Regions from separate parts of the Homo sapiens genome. Here regions 1 and 3 are each reported to be linked to region 2. Evidence: microRNA targets listed by miRTarBase, many of them from high-throughput screens and not tested one by one. Region 2 holds a microRNA gene; each other region holds the end of a gene's coding sequence.
The links. The annotated mature microRNA hsa-miR-200a-3p reads UAACACUGUCUGGUAACGAUGU and lies in region 2 at 4,781-4,802, opposite strand. An mRNA with a match to its seed (bases 2 to 7 or 8) in the 3' UTR can be bound and repressed. Matches are read on the target gene's strand: a 7mer-m8 pairs with bases 2 to 8, a 7mer-A1 pairs with bases 2 to 7 and ends in A, and an 8mer does both.

Region 1: miRTarBase lists SMAD3 as a target of hsa-miR-200a-3p. The part of its 3' UTR that is shown has no 7-base or 8-base seed match.
Region 3: the mRNA of SPRYD4 is a reported target of hsa-miR-200a-3p. Seed matches in the 3' UTR shown: 7mer-m8 at 5,545-5,551, 7mer-A1 at 2,373-2,379, 7mer-m8 at 744-750 and 7mer-m8 at 395-401.

The regions. Positions count from the first base shown.
Region 1 is chr15:67,189,716-67,194,715 of GRCh38, reverse strand. It overlaps SMAD3 (SMAD family member 3), which reads right to left. Exons shown (of 9, transcript NM_005902.4): 9 at 1-4,303. The coding sequence ends at 4,180. Among named protein-coding and RNA genes, the nearest start is that of SMAD3-AS1, 45 kb to the right of the region's middle.
Region 2 is chr1:1,161,809-1,172,717 of GRCh38, reverse strand. It overlaps MIR200A (microRNA 200a), which reads right to left and starts at 4,855; the gene lies at 4,766-4,855. MIR200BHG (MIR200B, MIR200A and MIR429 host gene) reads right to left here and starts at 9,841. Exons shown (of 2, transcript XR_007065348.1): 1 at 9,460-9,841; 2 at 2,380-9,083. It overlaps MIR200B (microRNA 200b), which reads right to left and starts at 5,614; the gene lies at 5,520-5,614. MIR429 (microRNA 429) reads right to left here and starts at 3,713; the gene lies at 3,631-3,713. It also overlaps LOC124903820. RefSeq lists an enhancer at 1,345-1,912.
Region 3 is chr12:56,464,324-56,475,232 of GRCh38, reverse strand. SPRYD4 (SPRY domain containing 4) reads right to left here and starts at 6,655. Exons shown (of 2, transcript NM_207344.4): 1 at 6,557-6,655; 2 at 1-6,194. The coding sequence starts at 6,641. The coding sequence ends at 5,656. GLS2 (glutaminase 2) reads left to right here. Exons shown (of 18, transcript NM_013267.4): 10 at 123-189; 11 at 337-387; 12 at 513-689; 13 at 1,639-1,770; 14 at 1,913-2,005; 15 at 2,482-2,543; 16 at 3,038-3,114; 17 at 3,397-3,460; 18 at 3,590-4,281. The coding sequence ends at 3,746. RefSeq lists enhancers at 5,808-5,937, 6,358-6,407, 6,728-6,907, 6,918-6,987.

The sequences.
Region 1 (5,000 bases), not on the chromosome of region 2:
TTCTGGATGCTGAGCCAAAAAGCCACTACACCCTCCACCAACATTCAGAACTGGCTGTGCCCCAACTCTTCCAGCCACTGTCCTTGGGAGGAGAGACCTTTCCAACTTTCTTAAAAAAAATTAAATAGTTATCTGTCTGAATGGTTTTAAGAAATTATTACATAAATATAAAAACACCAGAATACTAGAGTATACATTACTTCTGCATTAAAAAAAAATCCATTGCAGAATCACTGAGAATTTCTCAATCCAGTTTACATGAGGCAAGTTTCTTTTCTATGATAGCTGTGTTTTTGAAAAGTTGCCTGTTTAGCCCATCATCTCCCCACCATCACCTCCCCATGGGAGATGCTTCATCATCATTTTGGATCCATGTCCTCTTGCGTACGTTTTTCTGCTTTCCCTACCCACTTGAGAAGCGGCTGATGCTCCTTAAACTGTGATGAAAATACATTGTGAAGACGGTTACCTGAAAGGGGCCTACAAGGGAACATCTTTGCCACACAAAGACAGTACAGCTTCGCTGTGTTGAGGTTTGGTTCTGGTAAAATGGGGACACGTTTATTTTGGGGGAACTCCCAACTCTAGCCAAGTCACACAGTAAGAAACAGGGTCCAGGGCTAAACGGGTGCACTCTCTTGCTGCTGGTATCCCCCTTGGTGAACAGTCCTACAAGCAGCCTGCAGATTCTTCTCCCTACATCTCCTGTAAGGACGAAGGAGTGGTGTAACCTGAGCTCCGGCCCTGTGGAGACCCTCATGAGGCCTGAGGCTAAGAATGAAACAGATCTTTGCTTCTTCCCCAGATTACTTACATACGTGCATGCCATGCACACACTACTTCAAACCTTTCTGTAGTCTTGAGTAAAAGCATTTAGCCTGGAATATGTCCAAACTCTAGGAAGCCAAGGGGAGATGGAGAAAAATAAACAAACTAAGCACATGATATGTGCTATAGCTCACTTCAGTATATTAACGATGGTTTAAAAAAATAATCACCATGGTCAATAAAAAAAAAAAAATACAACACAGACAACATAAGGACAATGGAGACGTCTGCCAGCAGCCTTGCCCTCATGTGTGCTCTTCCTAAGAGTCAAAGTCCCTGCTCCTGACTCCTCTAGGCTTGTCTCAAAATGTCAGGTCTACAGCCTGCCAGGAAGGTGGCCAACTGAGATGATGTTCCAGCACAGGCCTGTAATCCAAACCGGCTGGGGTAGCTACCTACGTATGTGCTGGAAGCATCTAAGTTACTAAATTGGGAAGAAGCGAGGTGGGGAGGGGAGAGAGGAAAGGGAATAAAAGTTGGCTCCTTGGAAGGTGCTGAAGACAAGGATCTGTGTCCCAGTGCTAGCTGCACTTGGGTCAGTCTCAGCACAAGCTGCAAGGTGAAGATGTCATGGCGGGGAGCCCAGGGCAGGGGCAACACACGCGGTCGTGTTGACTAGGTGAACGCCACTTAAAACTGCTATCCAGTCACCAGCACTCCTCTAGAACTGCCCTGGTTTCCTCTTGCCCTTTTCAACTGTCCTTTAAAAAAGTGTTTTAATATACAAATGCCATTCATACAACAGGATTTTAAAACTAAGAAAACTAGCTTGTGGCTTCAAGGAAGGACACTAATGTTACATACGCCCAAAGCACCTATGTAGCACTCTAAGGTGGGAATGGCACCATTTCCTAACCTCTTAGGTATGATCAAATTTATTTTCAGTGATGCCACAGGTGGGTTTGCCTACAATCCCACACATCCTCCTCTGGTGGTCTAGTCAATAAAGAAAAAGGGCCAAGGAAGTATCCTTTGGAAAAACACAAAACTCAAACTTCATGCTCCTAGAAGTAGCCTTCAGGTCTGAGCAATGAGGGTTCTAAGACACCATCCAAATGCAGCCAAACGTGTCATTTCATCACATTCAAAGTTCATAACCTGCCAAAGTATAGGCTTTTTTTTTCCCCCTTCACCTGGAGTAAGACACGACTTCCATAGATCACTGGATCACCAGAATCAGGCTGTGCCTGAAGCTAGTTCCCAAGCACCCAGAGGGCTGTGTGCCACAGGAAGCCCTCATAGGATCGTGCAGCAGGTGGATCATGCAGGCCCTCGGAAACTGCTGCCCATGGCTTTTAGGAGAGGAACCATGACTGCTCTAGCAGAAGCCAAAATGGAATATTTGGTTCCTGGGTCTCAGAGCTGGCTGGGAACATGAACACATGTACAGGAGGTTCAGGGGGCTTCCTGTGTAAGAAACAGGCCATAGATCATTTCACACCAGGCACATACTTCAGACTCACAGCATTTGGCCCTCTCAGAGGAAGTGAGGGGTTTTGTATTGTCTCTGGGTTCTGAGTCAACCCTCCTTCGAGAAGACTCACACAAGTCTGTCAAGGTGCTCCTTCCGTCTCTTCCTGTGTCCTCAGGAGGCTTGGGGAGCAGCTGTCCTACCTGGAAACCTCATGGCTAGAACTTCAGAGGCACAGGACCCTGCAGATGAGGCATCAGGAAGCCTCTCCATCTCCCTCTAACATCAGAAATCTCATCACATTTGAGCTGTATGACTTGCCAAAAGTATATACACTTCCTTCCCTTCACCTGGAATAAAGCAGGACTTCCATAGGAAATCCCTTGATTTTTCCTGCTATAAATTCATGCAAAAACGTGGGATAGGTCATTTTATACAAAAACAGCAGCAAAGAATAAAGTACCAATTGAAGGTGGCAGTTCTGTCTACTGTGTTCTGCAAAAGGCTGGGAAAAGAAGAGGACTCTTTTTTCTTTTTTCCAGTTGAAATAATTTAGACTAGTTTTCTCCCTAATTGCTGCTGGGAGCAGTACTTGTTACACAATACAACTGCTATAGTTGTCACCGGTGATCCTCTACCGGGAGCTAGATCATCTTATATCCCAGGGGGAAGATGACAGACCTCTTTGTACCAAGCCTGCAATTTTCAAAGGTGTAAAAATATTTTAATAGCCCTTTTCATTTGCCTATGTTGGCCTGAGATGTTTCCCTTCTGGTGAATTTGCTTCTGTAAATTTCAGCTTGCAGAAGTGCTGGCAGGTATCTCTTCAACAAAACCTGGAAAAGCTTCACCTCAGGAGAGAGAAGGGAGAGAAGCAGTTGCTGGGTCTCACTCAGGTTTCCCAGTCAATGTGCCAGCCCAGGATTTTTAAAGAAAATATATAAACCAAACATTTAAAAGAGCATATGATAAAGTTGATTTAATGAATGCAACTGACTACATAAACCAATATAGCCGTATGCATCAGAATCTGGAGCAAGCTCTTACAGATGACTGGAGACGCACCCAGTGTGGTGCTGCCTGAGACCAAATGCCATCCCACGACAAGGGCCTCCTGCTTCATGAGAACACTTACCGTCATTCGAATCTCTTTGAGATTAATGTGATAATAGACACTATACATTGCATATGCACTGGGCCTCAGCAGATCCTTCCAACTTTTCAAAGTGAAAAAGGACAAACGTAAGTGAGTTTTTAAAGAGGTGGCGCTCATCGATTTTTCCCGCTGTCCTGTGTGCAGGTTCTGCTGAACACGCACCTCCCAATCAGTATGTTCTGAGAGGGGAGGGAGACAGACAAAACTCCCTCCCTCCCCATCCCAAGTCTATCCAGCTCACAAGGGGCAAGGTCTGCTGGAGTGGTGGGGCGGGGCGGGGCGGGGCTGGGCTGGGAATGTTCACTGGAAGAGGCACTGTCACAAGCGTCAGAGAGCTGGGCATGAGGTCTGCATGGCCCTGCGGGCTCTTCCTACCTAGAACGCCCTTCCAAGGTGAACTCCACACTGCAGTCCTAGACAGAGGGGTGTTTCTGGTTGGACTGTGACATCCCAGAAAGCTGTCACTCAAAAAAAGAGTCTGGGGGGAGGGGGCCGGTGGTGTAATACTACCTGTTCTGCTCACTTAAGCCACCAGAGCAGACGCCATTTCTTGCCCTTCAAAGTGGGGCCAAAGGGTAAATGTGTTTGGCAGACACAGCTGTTCATAACATCCACCTCTGGGTTTGCTCGTGTGTTTCAGAAAACAGGTGGGTGCACCCCTTCAGTTGAGGGAGAAAGATTTCTTCTTCCTTGACAACAATGGGTTGAGTAGAGTTCCAATTTTCTCCACCTCCTGCATGGCCATTTTCCCCAAGCCTGCCCTCCCCTACCATACTTGATGTCTCTAAGACACACTGGAACAGCGGATGCTTGGGGAGCCCATCTGGGTGAGGACCTTGTCAAGCCACTGCAAAGGCCCATTCAGGTGCAGCTCAATCCAGCAGGGGGTACTGGTCACAGTCTGTCTCCTGTAAGAAATAGGGAAAGGGGTGGGGTGGGGGACTTAAAAAATCTCCAGGGGGTTACACAAGTCAGAAAGCTTTTTCTGCTTTGGTGACAGTCATCTTCCCAAAGATGCTGTTAGACGCTGTCCTAGAAGCGGTACCAGTAACTTGCTGAAACTACCCGGCCAAACTCCTCTACCCAGGGAGGACTTTGAGTAAATTAAGTTCTCTTGAGGGGGAAGGAAGTCGACTTTAAAGAGTTAAACATGTAAAGTCAATGGCAAAGAGTTAAATATGTAAAGTCAATTGCAGGGTACCCCAGAGGCCCACCAGTTACTGTAACAGGCCCCCTAATAGAGGAGACCTCCATCCTGAGCAAAGGGCTTCCTGGCTCCCATCTGTACCAAACGGGCACGTGCCGCTCCCCTATCTCGAAATCTGGGCCCAGCCCCAGCAGGCGACGATGACGTGTGTCTGTCTGATTGAGGGGTGTTTTTTACAAAGCGCCAACAGTGTCCGCATGCCTTCGGTTCCCAATGTGCTGATATAATTCTCATCTACGGCCTTATTTTGGAAAATCTTACAAGCAGAACGAGCCATGGAACAATTACTGGAAAAAAACAAGGCACACCACACGTTTCTTTTCCCCAAAGCACTTTGTCTAAATTCAGGCTGGTTGATGACGCAGCTTGCAGGCAGGCTCCCAAAGGCCTCCACTGAG
Region 2 (10,909 bases):
ATCATGTTGGCCAGGCTGCTCTTGAACTCCTGACCTCAGGTGATCCGCCCGCCTCGGCCTCCCAAAGTGCTGGGATTACAGGCGTGAGTCACTGCGCCTGGCCTGCCCTCGCCTTCTCTTTAAAACACCTAATGATACGAGGTCTGGGAGTCCTGGGCTCCTGGCATGACCCATGGCACGGTCTGATCCCCTCTGCCTCAAACTCTGAGCCTCCAGCCACGTGTCCCCTACCCATCCGTGTCCTTCAGAGCTTTGCGTGGGTCACGAGGGCCTCTGTGCTTAGGGTCCCCTTGCAGGGGGCTGGTGGTGCCCCCAAAAGACAACCACATCATAGCCCTGAAACCTCGAATGTGACCTTATTTAGAAGAAGGGGCTTTGCAGGTGGGGTTACGTCAGGATCTCTAGTGACATCACCCAGGGCAGGCCCTGAATCAATGGCCTCTGCCCCCCTGAGAGGGAGGTGGAGAGAGGAGACGCAGACGTGGGGGAGACGCCGTGGGACTGGGGGGCAGAGATGGGTGACACGGCCACAGCCACTGATGCCTGAGCTGGCAGGGGCTGGGGAGGCAGACAGGGTCCTCTCCTGGAGCCCCCAGAGGGGTGCAGCCCTGCCTGCCCTGTGGCTTTGGAGTTCTGGCCTCCAGATGCGGGCGTAAGCGTCTGTTGTTGTGCCTGCCTGTGTGGTTTTTCAGCAGCCGGGAGGAGAAGCCACCCTTTCGAGAGTGTGGTGCCCGCTCCGGAGCCGCCTCCCCGACCCACGCCGGGGCGGCAGCCTGGGGGTTCCCCGCTCTGTGTCCCTGGGGCCTGAGCTGTGGGGGAAGAAGGGGCCCCGGCTGTCCCTGGGGAGTCCCTGGAAGGAAGAGAGAGCTCTCGGAAGCGGGGCGGTGGGGGGCGTCTCCCACCGTCCTCCTGGTTCTGTCCAGCTGGGAACAGTGTCCTCGTCCCCTCCCCGCACTCCCACCTTGCGCCTGGTGCTCAAGCTTTGAGATGGTCCCGCTGGACCCTGGTGCGGAGCAGACCCAGGAGGCCCCTCTGCCCTCTGGGAGCCTCAGGTCAGGTGGCAGGTGGGGCTGGGGCAGGTCCTGGGCTGAGTGGCTGGGCCTTCGGGGAGCAGGGCCCACTTGGTGGGGGTGACGGGTGGGGGGTTCCTTCGGTGGCTGCTGTGGCTCTCCAGGCTGGGAGCAGCAGATCCGGGTTCGGAAGCTCTGACTCTGGGAAGGGGCCTACGTGTGTCCCCTCCTCCCTGAGGCTGAGGCAGGTGGCCTGACAGGAGCTGATGGGGATGGGAAGGACTCGCCCAGCTCCTCTCCAGAACTGGCCCTTCCGGGAACAGAGCAAGGCAGGGTCCTTGCCCCTGGGCTGGGAGGGAGAGCCCCGTGTTCATCTTTGTGGCGCACCGGCCTTTGGAGGATGTGATCTGGACACACACCTCGGAGGACGGGTTTCCTTGTGTGGGGGGAGAGGGGGTGCAGCGGGCAGGTCCCCCAACCCCTGCAGCCTCCCCTCCCTGGGGCCCCACACAGGCCTGAGGACTCCCCACCGCCCTCAGAAGCCCCCAGGCTCCCCAGCCAGGCACTACCTCGTCCCTCACAGCTTTCCTGAGTTCAAACTTGAAAACTCTGCCCCTTAATCCCAAAATCTGGGTGGTGTGGCAGCCACGGATACCTGTAGCCCCAGCAAGGTTCCTGCGCAGGGCAGGTGGGAGCAGGACCTTGGGCCGTGGGTGTGCCCGGCCCGCGTGTCCAGGTGGGTGCAGCCCCCAGGGCCAGGCAGAATGGGGGAGGCCTGGCACCTCTCGGGCAGTGGGTGGGGTCTCCAGGCAGGCCAGGCCCTGCCACTGGAAGGGAGGTGGCCCCTTTGCCACCAACCTGTGGCTGTCACCGGGGCAGGTGTGGCTGGACCAGGAAGCCCTCCTGGCTGGCGCCTGGCTGCCTCCATCCTGTCCGCAGCCCTCGCTCCTGCTGGCCGGCACCATACGCTCTTGGTCACCTGCTCAGAGAGGCCCCCCAGGGCCACCGGCTGCCCCCTCGGTAGCTCCCTTCAGCACAGGCTGAGGTGTCTCCACTCAGGGACTCCCCCTTCCCCCAGAACCTTGACCTGAGCTGACCACAGGAGAGTCAGGGAAGATTCCTGAGCAAAAGAAGGAGGGAGGGAGGGACGGAGAGAGGAGGAGGAGGGAGGAGGGGGAAGGAGGGATGGAGGAGAGGAAGGAGGAGGGGGAGGGAAAGAGGAGGGAAGGGAGGGAGGGAGCCTCTCCCAGGAACCTTGGGGGCCTCCGGGGCCGGATGCAGTGTCTGGGGTTCTGTCCTCAGCTGGGCCCTTTGCACGGCGGGGGTCTGTGCACGTGTGGTTAAAATAAGGAGCTGGTCCAAGCATGGGTGCGTGAACTGCAGACTTTATTACTATACAAAGACTTTTTTCTGTTTTGTTCCCGGTGCTTATGGAGAGGAGGAGGAGGAGGAGAAACCGCACAGGGAGGCTCTGGGTACGGCCCCGCCAGCCCCAGCAGGGTCCTTCCTGTCACACCCCGTGCAACGCAGCAGGCGCTGTGGAGAGTGAGCCCCACTGCAGTGTGGGGCGCAACTTCATCCGAGGGGTGCTTGGAGGGACTGGCCAGACGGGCACAGCGGTGAGGAGGTGCTGGGATGGGGAAGGTCCCCGAGCTCCGGGCGGTGTTGGATGAGCTCAGGCTCACAGGTGTGGCCCTGCCTGGCCCGAGCTCTCCAGGTGTGTCCAAACCTTGTGTTATATGCACCTTGCAGTCCAGGGCTCACCCGTGCGGTCTGGTGAGGTGGACGCCACATTCTGGGGGTGGCACTCCAAGTTCTTCCCCACACACGTCGCTCAGGCGGCAGCAGCATGGGGGTGGTTTCAGCTGGCCCTGCGGGGGACTGCCCCATCTCCCCAGGGAGGAAAGAGGGTCTGGAGATAGCCCCGGGTGGGGGAGGTCAACCTGCAGATCCCGGCTTGGGGACAGCTCCAGATGACACCTCGTGAGCCGCCTGGGGTGGAGGGGCCCCCAGTGCAGGGCTGCGTGGCCCCAAGCACCTGCCTTCCCTATCCCATGGTCTTGCAGCTGGGCACCGGCCCCGCCCGCCTCAGCCCCAGAGATGGGCCCTGGAGGGAGAGTGTGGTCTGCATCCCACGGCTGGCCCCTGGAGGAGGAGGGCCAGGGCTGGCCCCGGGAACCTCCCAGAGGTCTCTGCGTCCTGCTGCCTGGCCGCTGAGACGCTGTGACATTGTCCCTGCTGGGCATTTGTGCTCCTCCGTGCCCTGGGCTCAGGCACTTTGGGGGGCCCAGCTGCTTCTGTCTCAGCCTCCCCAGGTGGCGAGGGGGCTGGGGCTGTGGGGTGGGGCTCCGGGTATCTGTGACTGTGACCCCAGGGGCCAGGCTGATAGCACGGGGTCCACAGCATCTGCCCGGGGACTACAGCTCGAGGGCCCCAGGAGGCCGGGTGGGCACAGGCCATGGCGAGGGTGGGGCACAAGAGCCCCAGACCCCGGCGGCTTTGCACTGATGGGCTGCGGATGGGCACAGGCCATAGTGAGGGGGGCATGAGAGCCCCAGACCGGGCGGCTTTGCACTGATGAGCTGCAGGGCAGGCAGCTCTCTCCTCTAACGGTGATCAGGCAGCGGATGGACGGTTTTACCAGACAGTATTAGACAGAGGGCCAGGTCTAACCATGTCTGGTAAGACGCCCATCGGCCGGCGGTGGTGTGGGTGGCCTCCGGGTCCTGGGCTGGTGTCTGCGGGGCCTGTGAAGGGAAGGCCCCGGGGGCGGCTCCTGCCACCTCCTGCAGCTGCCCTGATCCCTCCTGGGTCTGCAGAACGAGCCCCCGAGGCACTTCCCTGACAGCCCCCATCCCAGCACCTGGTCCCAGCCCAGCCTGGCTGTGTGGGGGTACCCGGGAGCCACCTGGTCACCCAGGCCCTGCTCTTGGCAAAGGTTCCCTGCAGCCCCTCGCTGGCTTCCTGAAGCTCGGTCGGGTTAATGAGTAACAGTGAAGGGCAGCCTCTCCCCGGTGGCTGCCCCCTCCCCAGGCTGGGGCCTTGTGTGGGGGTGCGGTCCCAGGCGCCCTGGTTGCAGATGGAAAAGATGAAACAATGGGTCATCCTGGCCTGGTGGGTTTTGGACAAAGTTCCTGTTCTTGTTGACTGGGGGAAGGAATGAGACCCCTTGTCCCTCAGAGGGCAAGCGCAGAGCGTCCCCGCTCCCCTGCATGGTGGGGCTCGGGAATCTGAACCCACCTTGTCCTTCCTGCGCCCCCAGCAGACCCTCCACGGAGCCCGGACCACGTGAGAGAGGCCACTGTTGCTCTTCCCTCTCCAGCCCTGGCATCCCAGCCCTATGGCCTTTCCTGGAGCCAGGTCACCCTAAAACCCAGCCTGGGAGGTTGGGTGGGGGAGGCACAGCGGCTCCGGGAGGGGGAGCAGGATGCCCTCCAGGCCACCTGTGGAGGCACCAAGGGGTCCTCAAGGTGTCAGACCCAGCCTGGGCGTGAGTGACCCCGGGGGCACCCCCGGCAGAGGCCGGCCCCTCCCCTGGGGGCTGGACTTCGGAGCTGACACAGGCCCTCTGCCGCCCGCTCAGCCCTCCGCCCTCACCCGTCTGCTGGCCCCGCTCGGCCCTCCGCCCTCACCCGTCTGCTGGCCCCGCTCGGCCCTCCGCCCTCACCCGTCTGCTGGCCCCGCTCGGCCCTCCGCCCCAGCCCATCCCTGGAGTAGGAGCTCCGGATGTGCCTCGGTGGTGTCCCCGGCGAGCGGCGGGTCACCTTTGAACATCGTTACCAGACAGTGTTAGAGTCAAGCTGGGAAATCCAGCACTGTCCGGTAAGATGCTCACAGGGGCCCGGGAGGGACGTGGGGTCCCGCCAGGCAGGCAGGGGCTGCTGTGGAAGCCCAGGGAAGAACCGGAGCGGTGAGCAGCCAGGGGTGGTGCCGGGACCGGACAGGGCTGGCGGAGAGGGGCTTGGGGGCCCTGAGACTGCACACAGGCCCACCCTCCCTGCTTCCTCCAGGGCAAGGGGACCCTGGGGCTGCTGACCCGGGACCAAGGCGGGGGCACTGGTCTGCTCGGTGGCCGGCCCACCCTGTCCGGCAGGAGGGAAGATGGCTGTGGCCAAGCTGGGTGGGGCGGCTTCCTCTGGGTTCCACGTGGCTCCCGGTTGGGCCTTGCCCTCCTGAGCCCTCTGTTGGGTCCTGCTCGGCCCGCACCTGCTGGGTGTGACAGCAGCTCCCGCCCAGGCGCTGTGGGCAGGGCCCGGACACCTGAGCGTCCTAATCCCCAGATCACTGTGGGGCGCCCTGGGTGCAGCTGCAGGAGGCCTTGCATTCCGGGGTCTCTGAGATGCTGGTGGGGGGCGCCCCAGCCCCCTTCCGAAGGTCACGTCCCCCCGTCACTCTCCCCAGAGCCATCTGGCCCGGACGGGGTGGGGTCCGGTGAGCGGGCTGTGTGGGAGGGGAGTGTGGGGCTCGGCGGGAGGCCCTGGGGGCCGGGACGGGGTCGGCCGGTCGCTGCGTGCAGGGCTCCGCCGTCATCATTACCAGGCAGTATTAGAGACCTGACTCCATCCAATGCTGCCCAGTAAGATGGCCACGGCTGCCCGAGCTGGGTCCGGGGGCCGCCCGGCTGAGGGTTGCATGGGACTCGCTGGGAAGCTCAGTAGCTGGGGGGCCTCGTCCTCCTGGGGCACTGAGGACAGCATCGCCGGAGGGCAGGGGCCCGGGTGAGCCCCACCCGCCAGCCCTGCCGAGTCCAGCAGCCACCAGCTTTGGGTCCTGGGGTGGGCACCTGGGGGGCCGAAGTGTCCTGGCCAGACGGCCGAGGACTAGGTCGGAGTGGGGCTGACACGGGCCCTCTGCCCGCCCCGCTCGGCCCTCTGCCCCCACCCCTCTGCGGGGGACCTTCCCTCTGGGTGGTCCCATAGGAAGGCCTGGACAGCAGCCCCAGCCCCCCGGGCCCCACGTGCTGCCTTGTCTGAGGCAGGGGACAAGGGCCTCTGTCTCCAGGATGGTGTTCCAGGAGCTGCTTCCCTGCCCAGCCCCTTCTCTTCTCAAAGGCCCGGTGTCTGCGAGGCTCTCGAGACAGAACGGTCCCCGCCACCTGGAGACCCCTCTCCCATGCTGCCCCGCTCACTGCACAGCGTCTGAGGGCAGGGGGTGCAGGCGGGGGTGGGGGTGGGGGTGTGGGTGGGGGTGCGGGCGGGGCAGGCTCCTGACCCTGCCCAGCCGTCCCTGCGGTTTGTGTGTCTGCTGGTCTGGGGTCTGACCCAGGCACAGAGGCAGACCGGCCACAAACACAGACACAGGCAGTCAAGCCTCAGACGCCGCGAGGGCTGAGCCGCCTCTGCAGGGGGGCAGGAGGAAGTGGGCAGCCCTGTGGCCCCTCCTTGCTCAGGGCCCTGCCTGGAGCCCAGAGACCCTAGGCTTCTACTCCAGGCACACTCAGGACCCGAGGGAGGTTCAGCCCTCAGGCCAGACCAAGGCTCCCCGCCCGCTGGACACGCCGTCCTTCCTGTCCTCCTTCCCACCCTTTCTCTGCAACCACCTGGTGCCAACTGGGCCCAGAGAGCTGGCCAGAGCCACTCTTCAAGTTTTCTGGCACCTTCCACCCACAGAGGCTGTAGGTGGGGCGCAGGCCCTGTGCCGATTCCCCTGTCTGCCCGCCGACCACAACAAAGGTCGTGTCCGCCCGCCCCCGCCTGCTGCCGGGTCCACCCGGTTCCAGTCTCCTCCTCCAAAGGCCACGTCTCCGAGGTCCTGACCCAGCTTCCCTCACGCCTGGACCCTCTCCGGAGACCCCACACCAGGTCCCCTGCCCTGGCCCCAGCCTGTCAGGCTCCAGGGCACCCGGCTTTCCCTTTCCATCACCTCACAGGCCTTCGCCACCAATGCCATCAAATCCCATCAAATCAGTGCTTCAGGAACACAATTTCACCTGTTTTCTGAGCTAAAGGAAACTAAGACTTCCCGTTCAGAGCAGAGTTGAATTTCAGCTCCATTCCTGGCTGCCAGGTCACGTGGGGAGGGCAGCAGGTGCCCGGCACTCGTCCCTTGCAGCTGGGGCCAAACACAGTTCCCAGCCCACCCGGCGGACGGGCCGGCCTCCCACTGCCAGGTTCAGGGCCCGGGGCCAGTGTCCCCAGGCCCTTGGCCACCCAGGGCCAGCCTTCTCAGGAACCCCACAGGGCCAGAGCTGGCCTGGCCACCCCAGGCTCATCAGTCATTGCGTTCTCACCCGGGAGGCTGAGGGGCACACGGCAGAGGCTGGGACCCAGGGACAGACCCGTGTGGCAGGCAGGTGGGAGAAGCCTCCTTCCTAAGTTCCAGGGCAGGATTCCCAGGCGCCTCCTGAGTGCAGAAGCTGTAAAGCCAACGAGCAGCTAGCAGGAGAGGCCGACCCTGGCTCCAGGGCTGGGTGGGGAGATGGTGGCCTGGGCCGGCAGGCTCAGCTGGGGGACCAAGGATTTCGCAGGGCCTTGTGCCTGGCACAGGGGTGAGGGGCAAGGAGTCGGGTGGGCAGGCGGCCGAGTCTTACCGTGGCCACAGGTCAAGAAATGAAAAGCGAAAACGGACCTTCCCTGTTTTCCGAGAGCCCCACGCGGCGCTTTCTTGTCAACCGTCGCCGGGAAGTGGAGCTAGCGTGGCGGTGCCGGTTGAGGTGTTGGGTTAATCATCACCGCGGGGCCAGACTCAGCTTGGGAAAATCCAGGAGTGAGTCAGGAGGCCCAGAGCCGCCCCAGCAAGGGGTTCTCTGCGGAGCACACTCCCCGTGGAGGCGCCCCTCGGCGCACCTGGCCGCCCTGCCCGCCTGCCTGGCCGGGTCCCACCTGCACAGGCTGGGGTGGGGTGGGAGCGCCCGGCGAGGAATGTGATCCCGGCGTGAAAACCTAACTTGTTGGTTAACCTGCCCGACGGGCTTAATCAATGGTGCGGCCTCGAGAACAAAGTGTGAAATCCAACCCTCCCCGACCGCGGGAGCCGAGCCGGGAGTCAGAGGCTGCCGGGGGGTGGGGTGCGGAGCTCGGCCTGGCGGGCACTCAGGTTCTTCCCTCTGCGTCGCCGGAGCTACGCGTCTGGGAGGCAAAGCCGCCATTTCACCCACACGGCGGGCGTGGATTTGCAGCCCTCGCAGGCCGGCTGTGAGCACGGCCCGTGTGTCCGGGCCACGTCCACCCGCCCCACAGAGAACACACCAGCTCCTCCAGGGATCCAGGGGTGCGCGACCTCCTCGGCCCATCTCATCTTCCTCTAGATACTAAAAAATGTTCTGACAAACTCGTTTCGCAAATAAGTATTTGCAAATTACCAAAATGTCTGAAAAGAACCGCAAACTGCATCCGCATTTTCACAAATGCAAACCTTAATTTTGCCAAATTCAATGTGCTGCCAACCATGCTTTTAAACATTTCATCTGGGTTACTAGAAAAACAAAACCAAACCACGTCTTTCCCCAGACACTCAGCGTAAACGGGGCCTGAGACGCTCCCGGGGGGAGGCCTGAGACGCTCCCGGGGGGTTAATTAAAGCATCGGCTCTTCACGCCCTAAGAATTTTGTTCATCAAGAACAATGAACCTTACCTCCCGCCACCATGATCAATCAGTTCCCAAACTTCAAGAAAGCCAGTGATCCGGGCTGTAAAACCGTGTTCAGGTGCCCCCGCGGCAAGTTCAAGGCTGGGCCTCGGTGGGTCGGACCTTGTTCCCGGCTGCGGCCACCGTACTGAGCCGTTTCACATTTAAGTAAAAAACCTCACGAGAGACGTTGCCCCCACCCCAGTCATAGCGCGGGGCCTGGGAACCGGCTCCAGCTTCTCCGGGCTGAGCCCCACCTGTACCAGACCAGCCACGACCCCAGGCACCAACCTCACCGCCCATGGGCTCGGCCGGCCTCTGACCAGAGGGTGCTGAAACCAAGCCCTTCCCACCGCAGACTCCAGAGCCCAAGGGAGACGCGGTCATCCTCGCACCCGGCCAAACCCTTCTACGCACCCACCTCTGAGGCGACAGCTTCCCGTCTCCGCACAAAGTGCCTCAGGACGGCGGTGGCTGCTTCTGGAGAGAACTTTCTAGAAGGCCTGCTGTCAGGTAGGCGGCAAGAACGTGACCCCTCTCGGAGCCTGCCCTCTGCCCAGGCCCTGCCCTGAGGGCACCCCATGCCTGGAGCCCACACACTGTGCCCGTGCCCGGAAGACGCAGCCCGTGGGTCCAAGATGGCTCCACACCCGAAACCCAGCCGCATCTGCGCAGGGGCCCACCTTTCCCTGGGGGGGGGAAGGACCCGCTCCAGCCTGTGTCTGCAGTGACCGGAGCTCCCCTGGACGCTGGCCAGGCTGGCGACAGCCCATCTGTCACCTGCGCCCCTGCCCCACGTCGGCCACGGCGGGGGCTGGCGAGGGCCCCCCTGCAGGGAGCCGCCTCCCCCTGCGCCTCAGCCTCCCCGCTGCCCGCCCTTACCTGCCCCGACAGGTTCCACTGCTGCGGCCGCGGCCCAGGAGCCGGGTTGAGGCTGCTCCCGCCCCGACCCTGCAGCCAGCGCCTCCCCTGTGCCAGGCCCGGGTGGGTGTGAACCGGCTTCGGAAGGAATGGGGGGCACCTGAGCCCGTCCGTCCCGGTCCACGGAGCTGGGTGCTCTGCCTCAGCCAGGGTCAGGCCTCAGGGCGTCCGTTGGCGCGGGGAGACCTGCAAGGGTGAGCTTCCTGCCCCCGCTCAGGCGAGGCCCTGGCACAGGAAGTCAGTTCAGACCTGCACAGGTGGACAACTCGCCCGTCTCTGGGAGAGTTTCGAGGGCGACGGGACAATGGGAGGCGGTGGCGAGGTGGGGGCCTCGGGAGGGAAGAGCCGGCTCGGCGGGGGCTCGCCTTACAAGGAGCAGTGCTCCCCGCCCCACACAGGTGCGAGCTCCCGCTGGCCAATCTCCGCTCCTGGCCCCCGACAGGTGTGTCCCCTGGGCTCCCATAGGCCGGGCGGGAGGCGGGCCAGTGACGGTGACGCAGGCCCGGGCCCCGCAGGCCCCGCAGACTCCGTCCCGCCCCCACCTTGCCGCCCACCGAGGTTGAACAAAAGCCAGGATGGGAAGGCTTCTGTGGGGCCCGTGTGGAGTGTGGGCGACATGGGCAGGGGTAGGGGCAGCCGCGGGCAACTCTCGCCTCTCCACCTCTGCCTCCCCACCCCCCAGCTCCGCAGGGCTCCTTCCCAGGCTGCCTTAGAAGCGGGTAGGGTGGCCCCAGGGTGAGGGGTCACAACCTGCCCGCCGCCTCCCTGCAGCGGTGGTGCCCTGTCCCATGGGGCTGAGGCCTCTCATGGACAGAGGGCAGGGGCCATACCTGCCTGTCTTTGCTCCAGGCCCGCAGCCCTTAATTTTGGAGCAATGAAGGGACCCCCCGTAGGCCCAGGTGGGTCTCAGGATCGGTCTCCTCGCCAGGGGCTCGGAGGAGCTACGTGCCCCCAGTCCCACCCCAATGGGCAAGAGGCTCCGAGACCCCACAGACCCACAGCTGGGGGAATGAGGGAGGGGTGTGGGTGCCTTCCTGAGCCTCCCTGCGAGGCAGGGACAGCTGAGAGGCCCCAGCAGCTCCCGGAACATCCCCATCTGGGCTCTGGAGGTTACTTTGGAGCCCCTGGAGTGGGGGTTCAAGTTTTCTTTGGGAGCTTGGAAGGCCTGGGGGACCAGGGGTCTGGGGGTGGGGAGGGCAGGGCCCCCGCCCGGTCCGGGAAGCGCCCCTCCCATGGCAAAGTGTTTGCTTCTCGCATCTCCCAGAGGAAGAGCCCATAATGAAACGACAAACGGTCTGTAATTAGCCCGACCAGCAGAGAGGTCCCAGCGGACCCCACGGTTTTCCATAATGAGCTCTGGGAGCTCGGTCAGGAGCCTCATCACCGTGGGCCTGTGCCCGGGGCTCCTGGC
Region 3 (10,909 bases), not on the chromosome of region 2:
ATAAAGGGGTTCATTTAGTTTGTGGTGTGATGTAGTTCTGTCTCTCCAGGGAAGGTAATTTTTCCCCTTCTCCCAACACCCACTCCTCCAACTTCAAGTACTAAATTGGGTGTTTGCTTCAGATTCCAGTCAGAGAAGGAAACAGGGGATCGGAATTATGCCATCGGCTATTATCTCAAGGAAAAGAAGGTAACCAGAAGAGGCCGGAAGAGAAAGTCCCTGGGAATTCTGCTGCTAGTGGAAGGGCAGTAGGGGTTGGGGGCTTCAGCTGAGACCCTGACAGTGTGAAAGGGCTGATGTCCTGAAGAGAAATGCTCTCCCCTCTCTTCCTTGCAGTGCTTTCCTAAGGGGGTGGACATGATGGCTGCCCTTGATCTCTACTTCCAGGTAAGAAAACACTGCTCAGGGCCGAGGGAACAGGACAGACTGTCCTTGCCCTTGCCCTTTCCCTACACCCGAGGGTCCCATGTGCAGGTTCACGTCACATCTTCACCTATTCTTTGTTTTCATAGCTGTGTTCTGTGGAGGTCACTTGTGAATCAGGCAGTGTCATGGCAGCCACCCTCGCCAACGGTGGGATCTGCCCCATCACAGGCGAGAGTGTGCTGAGTGCTGAAGCAGTGCGCAACACCCTCAGCCTCATGCATTCCTGCGGCATGTATGACTTCTCTGGCCAGTTTGCCTTCCACGTGAGTTTCTGGCTCTGCTATCCATCTGTCATGAGCCCAGTGCTAAGAAGAGAGAACACTGACTCTCTCAAGATAGAGGTGGAAGCTTGTTCCTGCCTCTCATTCACTAACTTCCAGGAAGGCAATTAGGTTGAGACTCCTTAGACGAGTTTCTCAAAAACACCAAGTTCCTCGAATATATAAAGAGATGTCTTTGGGAGGCCGAGGCAGGTGGATCACCTGAGGTCAGGAGTTCGAGACCAGCCTGACCTACATGGTGAAACCCCATCTCTACTAAATACAAAAAATTAGCCGGGGGTGGTGGTGTGCACCTGTAATCCCAGCTACTTGGGAGGCTGAGGCAGAAGTGCTTGAACCTGGGAGGCAGAGGTTGCACTGAGCCGAGATTGTGCCATTGCACTGTAGCCTGGGCAACAAGAGCAAAACTCCATCTCAAAAAAAAAGAAAAAAAGAAAAAGAAAAACAACCAGAGGTGTTGCAGCTCCTGAATTGTGCTTCACATTGCTGGCTCTTCTCCTTGGGGTCTCAGCTTAGATGTCATTTCCAAAGAAAGACTTTTCTGACCACCCTATCTCATGTGGCCCCCCTCTACCTCTATTTACAGCACCCTACTTCTCACTATTTATCACAATTACTTTAAACATTACGTGTCTATTTATTTACCTGTTTATTACCTATCTCCTAACACCAGAATGGAAGTTCCTAGTTCTAGCACAGCATCTAGCACAGAATGCTGTAAGTATTTCAAAAAATATTTTCTAGCTGAATCAATGAATTTAAGGGAAGGAAAGGACAGGAGTAATAAAAGAAGCTAATTAACAAGCCAAAAGGTTGAGGTGGATTGTGGTCATGCAGTCATTTGTAAACTTGTTAAGAGTACAGCCTAACTTGTTTATTTTCTGATTTGGGGCACACCCACTTTATCCTCAGCTTCAGTTCTGTTCCCCAGGTGGGCCTGCCAGCCAAGTCAGCTGTATCAGGAGCCATCCTCCTGGTGGTACCCAATGTCATGGGAATGATGTGCCTGTCACCCCCATTGGACAAGCTGGGGAACAGCCATAGGGGGACCAGCTTCTGCCAGGTGAGATGCTTTGCATATAGTACTTACTATTTTTGAAGCAATAAATTTGTTTAATGGTACCACTTTTACTATAATAAAGCAATTTTGAGCTCCTACTAAGTGTAAGGAGTAAATAAACAATATATTTGGCTTACAATTCTAGAAGTTGGTGTCTCTCTTCAATTTCCACAACTATGACAACCTGAGGCACTGTGCTCGGAAGTTAGACCCACGGCGTGAAGGGGCAGAAATTCGGGTAAGGAAAACTCCAGGTGGCTTGTAAGAATATTTCAAAGGCCAGGTGCGGTGGCTCACGCCTGTAATCCCTGCACTTTGAGAGGCCAAGGCGGGCGGATCACAAGGTCAGGAGATCAAGACCATCCTGGCTAACACGGTGAAACCTGGTCTCTATTGAAAATACAAAAAATTAGCCAGACGTGGTGGCACGCGCCTGTGGTCCCAGCTACTTGGGAGGCTGAGGCAGGAGAATCGCTTGAAACCGGGAGGCAGAGGTTGCAGTGAGCCAAGACCGCGCGCCACTACACTTCAGCCTGAACGACAGAGCGAGACTCCGTCTCAAAAAAAAAAAAAAAAAAAAGAATATTTCAGAGTAGCACATTCCATAACACTTCAGCAATACCCTTGGACTAAGCATCCATGGAGGAGGGTCACAGGGCACAGCTGGCATAGGTGAGTTCAATTAATGTCATGTGGGTATGATTTGTGTTCCAGAACAAGACTGTGGTCAACCTGTTATTTGCTGCCTATAGTGGCGATGTCTCAGCTCTTCGAAGGTAATGCTACTGTGACCAAATATACACAATAAAATACTCCTGGTCAGAGATTTTACTAGGAGGCAGCGTAACAAAATAGTTAAGTGCTTCAGCTTTGGAATTAGAATGGATATAGATTGCATTTAAATGAAATTTTTTTAAAAAAGGAGATTTTTTTTAAAAAAAGTAAACTGTCTGCTCTATGATAATTAATGTTAGCCATTGTTATTGAGTGTTAAGAGCAGTGTCCTAGGAAGTAGGTACCCTGCCTCAAATGGGCACTTACCACAGGTAGGCAGTGAGTGATATTTCTGGAAGGATCACATTCCCATCTCTCTAATATGAGTATAACAGTCTCATCTGGATATGGAAAAAAGATTATTCAGAGCCAACAAATCTGGCTATAGGCTGTTTCACTTTCTCTGAAACTCATCCAGTCTGACACCAGTTCACAAAGAACACCTGTGATTCCAGTCTGATCTAGGCAACTCTAGCTGCTTTCCCACTACCCTCAGGTTTGCCTTGTCAGCCATGGATATGGAACAGAAAGACTATGACTCGCGCACAGCTCTGCATGTTGCTGCAGCTGAAGGTACTGAAGGGTTAAGGAGGGGAGGAGGAGGGTAATCATAAGACCCTTTCTTTTTCACCAAAAGTACCTTCATTATATGTGCCCTCAAGGTTATAGGGGCAGCAACTAGTTTTATCTAGACACCCTTCGGTTTGCAGCTAGACTATGACTGAGTGCTGCAGGGTACAAAATGGGAAGAGGCCTTTTCCCCTCCCCTCTTGGTAAAGACTTCAGTGGCTAAGTGTCTGCACCAAAGGGTTCAAGACCTGCGCCTTCTCATTTTCCTTCTGCCCATATTCCTAGGACACATCGAAGTTGTTAAATTCCTGATCGAGGCTTGCAAAGTGAATCCTTTTGCCAAGGACAGGTGAGGAATAGGCTAAAAGTGGAGGAGGGTGGGCACAGCTTCTCCACCTACCCTCCAGCCACCATGCAAATATATACAACCACCACTCTCCACGTCTCCTTTGCCTGATCATATCATTATTCCTCTCAGGTGGGGCAACATTCCCCTGGATGATGCTGTGCAGTTCAACCATCTGGAGGTGGTCAAACTGCTTCAAGATTACCAGGACTCCTACACACTCTCTGAAACTCAGGCTGAGGCAGCAGCTGAGGCCCTGTCCAAAGAGAACTTAGAAAGCATGGTATGAGCACAGGTCATGGACAGCCCCTGCTCAAGAAAAAGCATGAGCTGGCCACACATGTAATCCATAACCACCAAAAATACTATGGAGAGCTACACTGCTTCAGTGGGGACCAAGCAGTCATTTGGTGACTTAGGCTAGTGCTTTCTATGGGAGTCAAAATACCCCATTCCCTCAGCAGACAGAGTACAGAGAAGGGCCTCAGAGGACACCTGCAGTACAGCTATCCAGAGAGACTGGGCTTCAAGGTACAGCCTAATGGCTTGCCCCACTCAAAACCATCCCAGCTCTTCACCCAGGTCTCCTCTTCCTCTCCCTGAAGAAACCATCATGAGAGAGATACTCTGGTGGAGGGACTCTAGCTACCATGCACATGTACATATCCACAGAATATGGGAAGTGGGAATGGCTATATACATGGCTTTAGTAGTCTGGAGAAATCTACTCCCCTTGGCCAGGACATGCTGCTGCTACTGCTAACAGCCAATTTTATAGACAGAGAAAGTATTTTGTGTTCAAATAAACTTTAATTACCAAATCATTTTTGCTAAACCCAGTCCTTCTTTCTTCCCTAGGGGTATCTAGCTTCATCACCATCATAGAAGGTAGAAAAAGATGGAATCACAGGGTCAAAGCACAGCTTCTCTACCTACCCTACCAAACAGTACATATTCACTTACCCCACCAGGTTTTTCTCAACTCCAAATACTGCTTTAGGTTAAGTGTATTCTGCTGCCAAGGGAAGCATAGGTTTGAGTCTAAACAGGCTCTGAAACAGATTGTGCAAAACCTCAGGCCTCCTTCCTTCCTCGGGAAGTTCCAACTGTGGCAGAAATGAAGATGGAACTTCTCAAGAATAAACAGTTTTGGCCGGGTGTGGTGGCTCACGCCTGAAATCCCAGCACTTTGGGAGGCCAAGGTGGGCTGATCACATGAGGCCAGGAGTTCGAGACCAGCCTGGCCAATATGGCAAAACCCCATCTCTACTAAAAATATAAAAATGAGACGGGCATGGTGGCACACACCTGTAATCCTAGCTACTCAGGAGGCTGAGGCACGAGAGTCGCTTGAACCCAAAAGGCAGAGTTTGCAGTGAGCCAAGATCATGCCACTGCACTCCAGCCTGGGTGACAGAGTGAGACTCTGTCTCAAAAATAAATAAATAGTTTCTAGCACTCATCCCCTAGATATCCCCCAAGTGTCTCTCTTCCCCTTTGGTCAAGGTTATAACTGGGATAATGATTATGACAGACTGGCTGGGTGTCAGAGGTACAGATTTAAGGTAGATGGACTCAGGGTAAGGATAGCTACAGCTGTGTGGGGCTGAAGGTCTGTGGCACTGAGCTACTGGGGAAGGAGGGCTCTGTTTTCATTTTGACACACTGAGTTAATAAAGCACTTACTGAGGGAGCCAGAGCCCAAACTCTAAATGTGCTGTAGAAAAAGGGCCAAGTCATTGACTGCACCACTCCTTCAGCCAGAGGTAGAAAGGATTTACTCTTCAGCCATCTGGTAGAGCCCCAAGAACAAGTTACATGTGGACAAAGGGAGGGAGAGGTATCATGGTGATTAATAAATTCAAACAAAGCTGAATGATAAGACCCCAGGATGGAATACAGTCTGAGAAAGGCCTGGGCAAAGGGAGGCAGAGGGACTGAAGGAAGCAGGTCAAGGAAGATACACCCATGGTAGCCTAGGAAATTGGCAGTAGTTGGTGGGTGGGGAAAAGGAGGGTTTGGCTGTATGCCTAGCTTTCACAAGGTAGGGGATGAGGAAGATGATCATGATATTGCACAGAGGACCCAACACTGAATTGTGGGAGCTAGAGGTTGCTTGAGGCAAAGTAAAAAGGCTTCGGACACTTTCAAAAGGAGGCTGGCCAAAGGCGTGATTAGGGACTCCAGTAATGGACATACTAGAGGCCCTCGGGCACCTCAAGCCCTGAATGGGTCAGCAGCTCCCCATCCCAGAGAGCAAAGGCAGGCACCACTGGACCCCGGAAATCTGTCTGTAGCGTGTGAACCACAGAGACCTGGCTCACATCCACCAGGCTCAGCTTCTGGGCCTCATACTCCAGCAACAGCCCCACCTTCTCTGGCTGCCCAATACCCTCAACTGGGGCTTTCTCGTTGGCCAACATGGTGTACCACTTGCGCTGGGCATAGGTGAACACCCAGGAACGATCATCAACACCAATGCAGCTATCCCGGGACATGTCCACATCTGCCACTCCTATCCGGAACTGCTGGGAGCGCTTCACTGTCACTTCCCAGTAGTGTCTGCCACTGGTGACCGCTGTGTCTGCCAGCACCACTGCCCACTCCCGGAAGCGCTCCACATTCAAGGCCACCTTGGTGGGCTCCAATCCCACCAAGCCATATTTGACACCCGTATCATCTCTGAAGAGTGCCAGGCTGCTGTGGGCGGTTTTTTCTTCCAGTTTGAAACTGACGCCTGCGGGCAGAGCAAAAAGACGGGATAATAACAGGGGCTAGAACCCTAGGGCTGGTGATATATTCAGATATGAGGCAGGCAGCCATGATACACGAGCAACTAGGGAAGAGTCAGAATGCCAAGCGGGCAAGAGAGTCGCGAGGTCGCTTTACTACGGATAGCTCACGGAGCTGAAAAACTCGGATTGAGTAAGTCCCGGAATTTAAAGAAACCAAATGGTATCACAGGTTTGGAATCTTAAGACCAAGGCAGGTGGGGAAGGAAAAGACCCGAGAGGGTTGGAGTTGCTTCTCGGAGTGGGGTCTGGGAATAATAGACGGCAGCCATTCTGGAGGTAAAAGAGTAAAAAGAGATAATCCTACCTCTCTGGGCCTCTGTGGAGGCAACTCCCAATCGTTTGGCTCCCCAGCGGCACAAGCGCAAAGAACGTGCAAAAAGCAGCGCCATCTTGCGCCTTGGATGAACCGGGCACGCCTCCCGCTTACAGACACAGCCATCTGCCCGCCCGCTCCCCTAGCACGTGGTGCGCGAGGGGCGGCCGCGCAGTGTTATGACGTAGGCGACGCCCGGGGGCGGGCGGCCGCCAAGGTAGTGGTTTCTGTTCTGTTTCTGCCCGCGGTTAATGCTGCTTATTCAGTTTTTCTGCGTAGACGAACGCTGCTCACATTTGAACTACGTAAAACTTTTAGAGATATAGTGTAGCCAGATGCTTAGAAGTATAGATTTTAAAATTAGACAGTACTGTAATTAGCTTTGATCCCGGCTTCACTGTGTGAGTTTGGGCAACTCACTCCACTTTTCTGAGCCTTAGTGTTCTAATTTATAAAATAGAAATTATATACAGACCTTAGTAATAATTAAGTGAGAATAATCTAGGCCGGGCGCGGTGGCTCACGCCTGCAATCTCAGCACTTTGGGAGGCCGAGGCAGGCGGATCACGAGGTCAGGAGATCAAGACCATCCTGGCCAATATGGTGAAACCCCGCCTCTACCAAAAGTACAAAAATTAGCCGGGCGTGGTGGCGCGCGCCTGTAATCCCAGCTACCCGGGAGGCTGAGGCAGGAGAATCGCTTGAACCAGGGAGTGGGAGGTTGCAGTGAGCCGAGATTCTGCCACTGCACTCCAGCCTGGTGACAGAGCAAGACTCCATCTCAAAAAATAATAATAATTAATCTAGATATATATTGGCAAATAGCAACCATTGGGTAATTCACAGTTGTTTATAATTAATAGTAAATACATAAATACTGTTAATGTTGGTTTTGTATGTTCAAGGCTAGGAACGGATGGTTTAACTCAGCATTCAGTTTTCTGAACTTAACCAAGAGTAGCAATATTTTGGTTCAGGGTATGAGGTAGGAGATTATGGACAGCCTATATTGAACATTTCGATCTGCATTCCATTTTATTTTATTTTTTGAGACAGGGTCTCATTCTGTCACCCAGGCTGCATGCAGCACAGTGGCGCAAACACAGCTCACTGCAACCTTCATCTCCGAGGCACAAGCGATCTTCCTGCTTCAGCCTCCCATGTAGCTGGGACCACATGTGCACGCACCATGCCCCGTTAACTTTTTTGTAGAAACGGGGGTTTCGCTTTGTTGACCAAGTTGTTCTCGAATTCTCGGGCTCAAGCCATCCTCCCACCTTTGCCTCCCAAAGTGCTGTGATTACAGGTGTTAGCCACTATGCCAGGCCTACATTTTTTTAATCAGTCCACTTCTCAAGGTTCTGCTGGCCAGTGCAATAGCAACATACATCCCACCTCCATCCTCCTACCCCTCAAAAAAGGATTTTAGATATATATTTTTAAAATGTATATTCTGAGACGGAGTGTCACTCTATCACCCAGGCTGGAGTGCAGTGGTTTGATCTTGGCTAACTGCAGCCTCTGCCTCTGGAGTTCAAGCAATTTTCCTGTCTCAGCCTCCTGAGTAGCTGGAATTACAGATGCCCACCAACCACACCTGGCTAATTTTTTTTTGAGACTGAGTCTCACTCTGTTGCCCAGGCTGGAGTGCAGTGGCGCAACCTTGGCTCACTGTAACCTCCGCCTCCCGGGTTCAAGCAATTCTCTTGTCTCAGCCTCCTGAGTAGCTGGGACTACAGGCGCATGCCACTACGTCCGGCTAATTTTTGTATTTTTAGTAGAGACGGGTTTCACCATATTGGTCAGGCTGGTCTCAAACTCCTGACCTCAGGTGATCCACCCATCTCAGCCTCCCAAAGTGCTGGGATTACAGACGTGAGCCACTGCACCTGGCCTAATTTTTGTATTTTTAGTAGAGACAGGGTTTCACCATGTTGGCCAGGCTGGTCTCGAACTCCTGACCTCAAGTGATCCACCCACCTTAGCTTCCCAAAGTGCTGGGATTACAGGTGTGAGCCACCACACCTGGCTTCTGGCCTAGATATTTAAAAGCCTAAATAACTAACCAAAAATTCTTCCTCCTCTCCCAGAGTGGTAACTGCCTTGAATGATGCACATGGCCCTAGTTCAGGCCACTGTCATCCTTGGCCTTAAGGCTTTCTCATTTCTTTTATTTATTTATTTTATTTTATTATTTTTTTTATTGAGACTGAGTCTCACTCTGTCACCCAGGCTGGAGTGCAGTGGCAGAATCTCGGCTCACTGCAACCTCCACTGCCCAGGTTCAAGCAATTCTCCTGCCTCAGCCTCCTAAGTAGTTGGGACTACAGGCGCCCACCACCACGCCCTGCTAATTTTTGTATTTTTAGTAGAGACAGGGTTTTGCCATGTTGGCCAGGCTTGTCTCAAACTCCTGACCTCAGGTGATCTGCCCGCCTCTGCCTCCCAAAGTTCTGGGATTACAGGCATGAGCCACCGCGCCTGGACAAGGCTTTCTCATTTCAATGTAGAAATGTGAGTAGCTTCTAAGCTGATCTGCCAGCTTCTATCTGTCTGCTTCTAATTCAATGTCGGCATTACAGTCAGACATGCAACCTCCCTGCTTAAATCTGTTAATGTGCCTGCCTCAAATTCCCTTACATGGTCACAAGGCTTTACATGATATGACTACTGCCTACCTTCTTTGTTCGTTTTCACAAAACATGATTTCTTCAAGAGTTCACAGGGCCATTGCAGTATAATTCACTAGGTGCCATGATTGAAGTCATACAGGATGCTCAGGAAACAAAGGAGAAACCTCTGATTTAGTATATTTGAGAGTGGTGGGAAGAGACTTCCCAAAAGCCATACCTATGGCTTGAAAAGCAGAAATGGTTAAGCAAGTGAGGGAATCTCATGAATTGCAACCCATATTCAGCCAGTTGCCCAGAAACCATGGAGTCCTTGGCTTGTCTGTCTCCTCTCACATATCTGATTGTCACTGAATCCCTATCACATTCCCCCTACTCCTACCAGCCCCCACTGTCAACTGCATCAGCCGTCTAACTTGTCTCCATTCTCCCCAGTGCTGCTGAGTGAAACCTATATCACCCATTAGGTTGTGAATCCTTTTTTTTTTTTTCTGAGACAGAGTCTCACTGTGTTGCCCAGGCTCAAGTGCCGTGGTGTGATCTTGGCTCACTGCAACCTCCGCCTCCCAGGTTCAAGCGATTCTCTTGCCTCAGCCTCCTGAATAGCTGGGATTACGTGCACCTGCCACCACACCTGGCTAATTTTTTTGTATTTTTAGTAGAGATGGGGGTTTCACCATCTTGGTCAGGCTGTTCTTGAACTCCCGACCTTGTGATCCACCTGCCTCAGTCTCCCAAAGTGCTGGGATTATAGGCATGAGCCACCACTCCCGGCTTAGGTCATGAATTCTTAAGAAAGGTGATTAAATACTGTGTTCTCTTTGCCCCAGGGCCTTAGTGTTCCCTTTACCACAGAATATGTGCTCATTAAAACGAATGAGTATAAAAGGAGAGGGTGGTTGGGCATGGTAGCTCATGCCTGTAATCCCAGCACTTTGGGAGGCTGAGGTGAGAGGATCACTTGAGCCCAGGAGTTCGAGACCAGCCTGGGCAACATAGGGAGACCGTATCTCTACAAAATAAATTTTAGAATTAGCCAGGTGTGGTGGTGCACGGCTGTAGTCCCAGCTAATTGGGAAGCTGAGGCACGAGGATTGCTTGAGCCCAGGAGGTCGAGGCTACAGTGAGCCTGGGCAACGAAGTGAGACCCTGTCTTAAAAAAAAAAAAAACAAAACAAAAAAAAAGTTTTGTTCCCATATTTTTTGGACTGCAGTGGCTCATTCTCTCCACCAGTTTTTTTTTTTTTCTTTTGAGACAGAGTCTGGCTCTGTCACCCAGGCTGGAGTTCAGTGGCGTGATCTCAACTCACTGCAACCTCCGCCTCCCAGGTTCAAGTGATTCTCCTGCCTCAGCCTCCCGAGTAGCTGGGACTACAGGCATGCACCACCATGCCTGGCTAATTTTTTGTATTTTTAATAGAGACGGGGTTTCACCGTGTTGGCCAGGCTGATCTTGAACCCCTTTCCTCAAGCGATCTACCCGTCTTGGCCTCCCGCCCGGCCTCGCCACCAGTTTGGAGTGCAGTGGCCCATTGTCTCCACCAGGGGTCAGCATGGCCCAGACTTTTCAGTCAGCTAAATAACGTGAGAAGAGAGCTTAGAGATTTCCTTCAGCAAAGTCCTGCTCTGTCAATACTTTGCATTTTGGTAGTAATGGGAAGGTTCCAGGATTGTGTTTCTGTAGGATTTCCCCTTTGGTTCCTGTGAGAGCTGA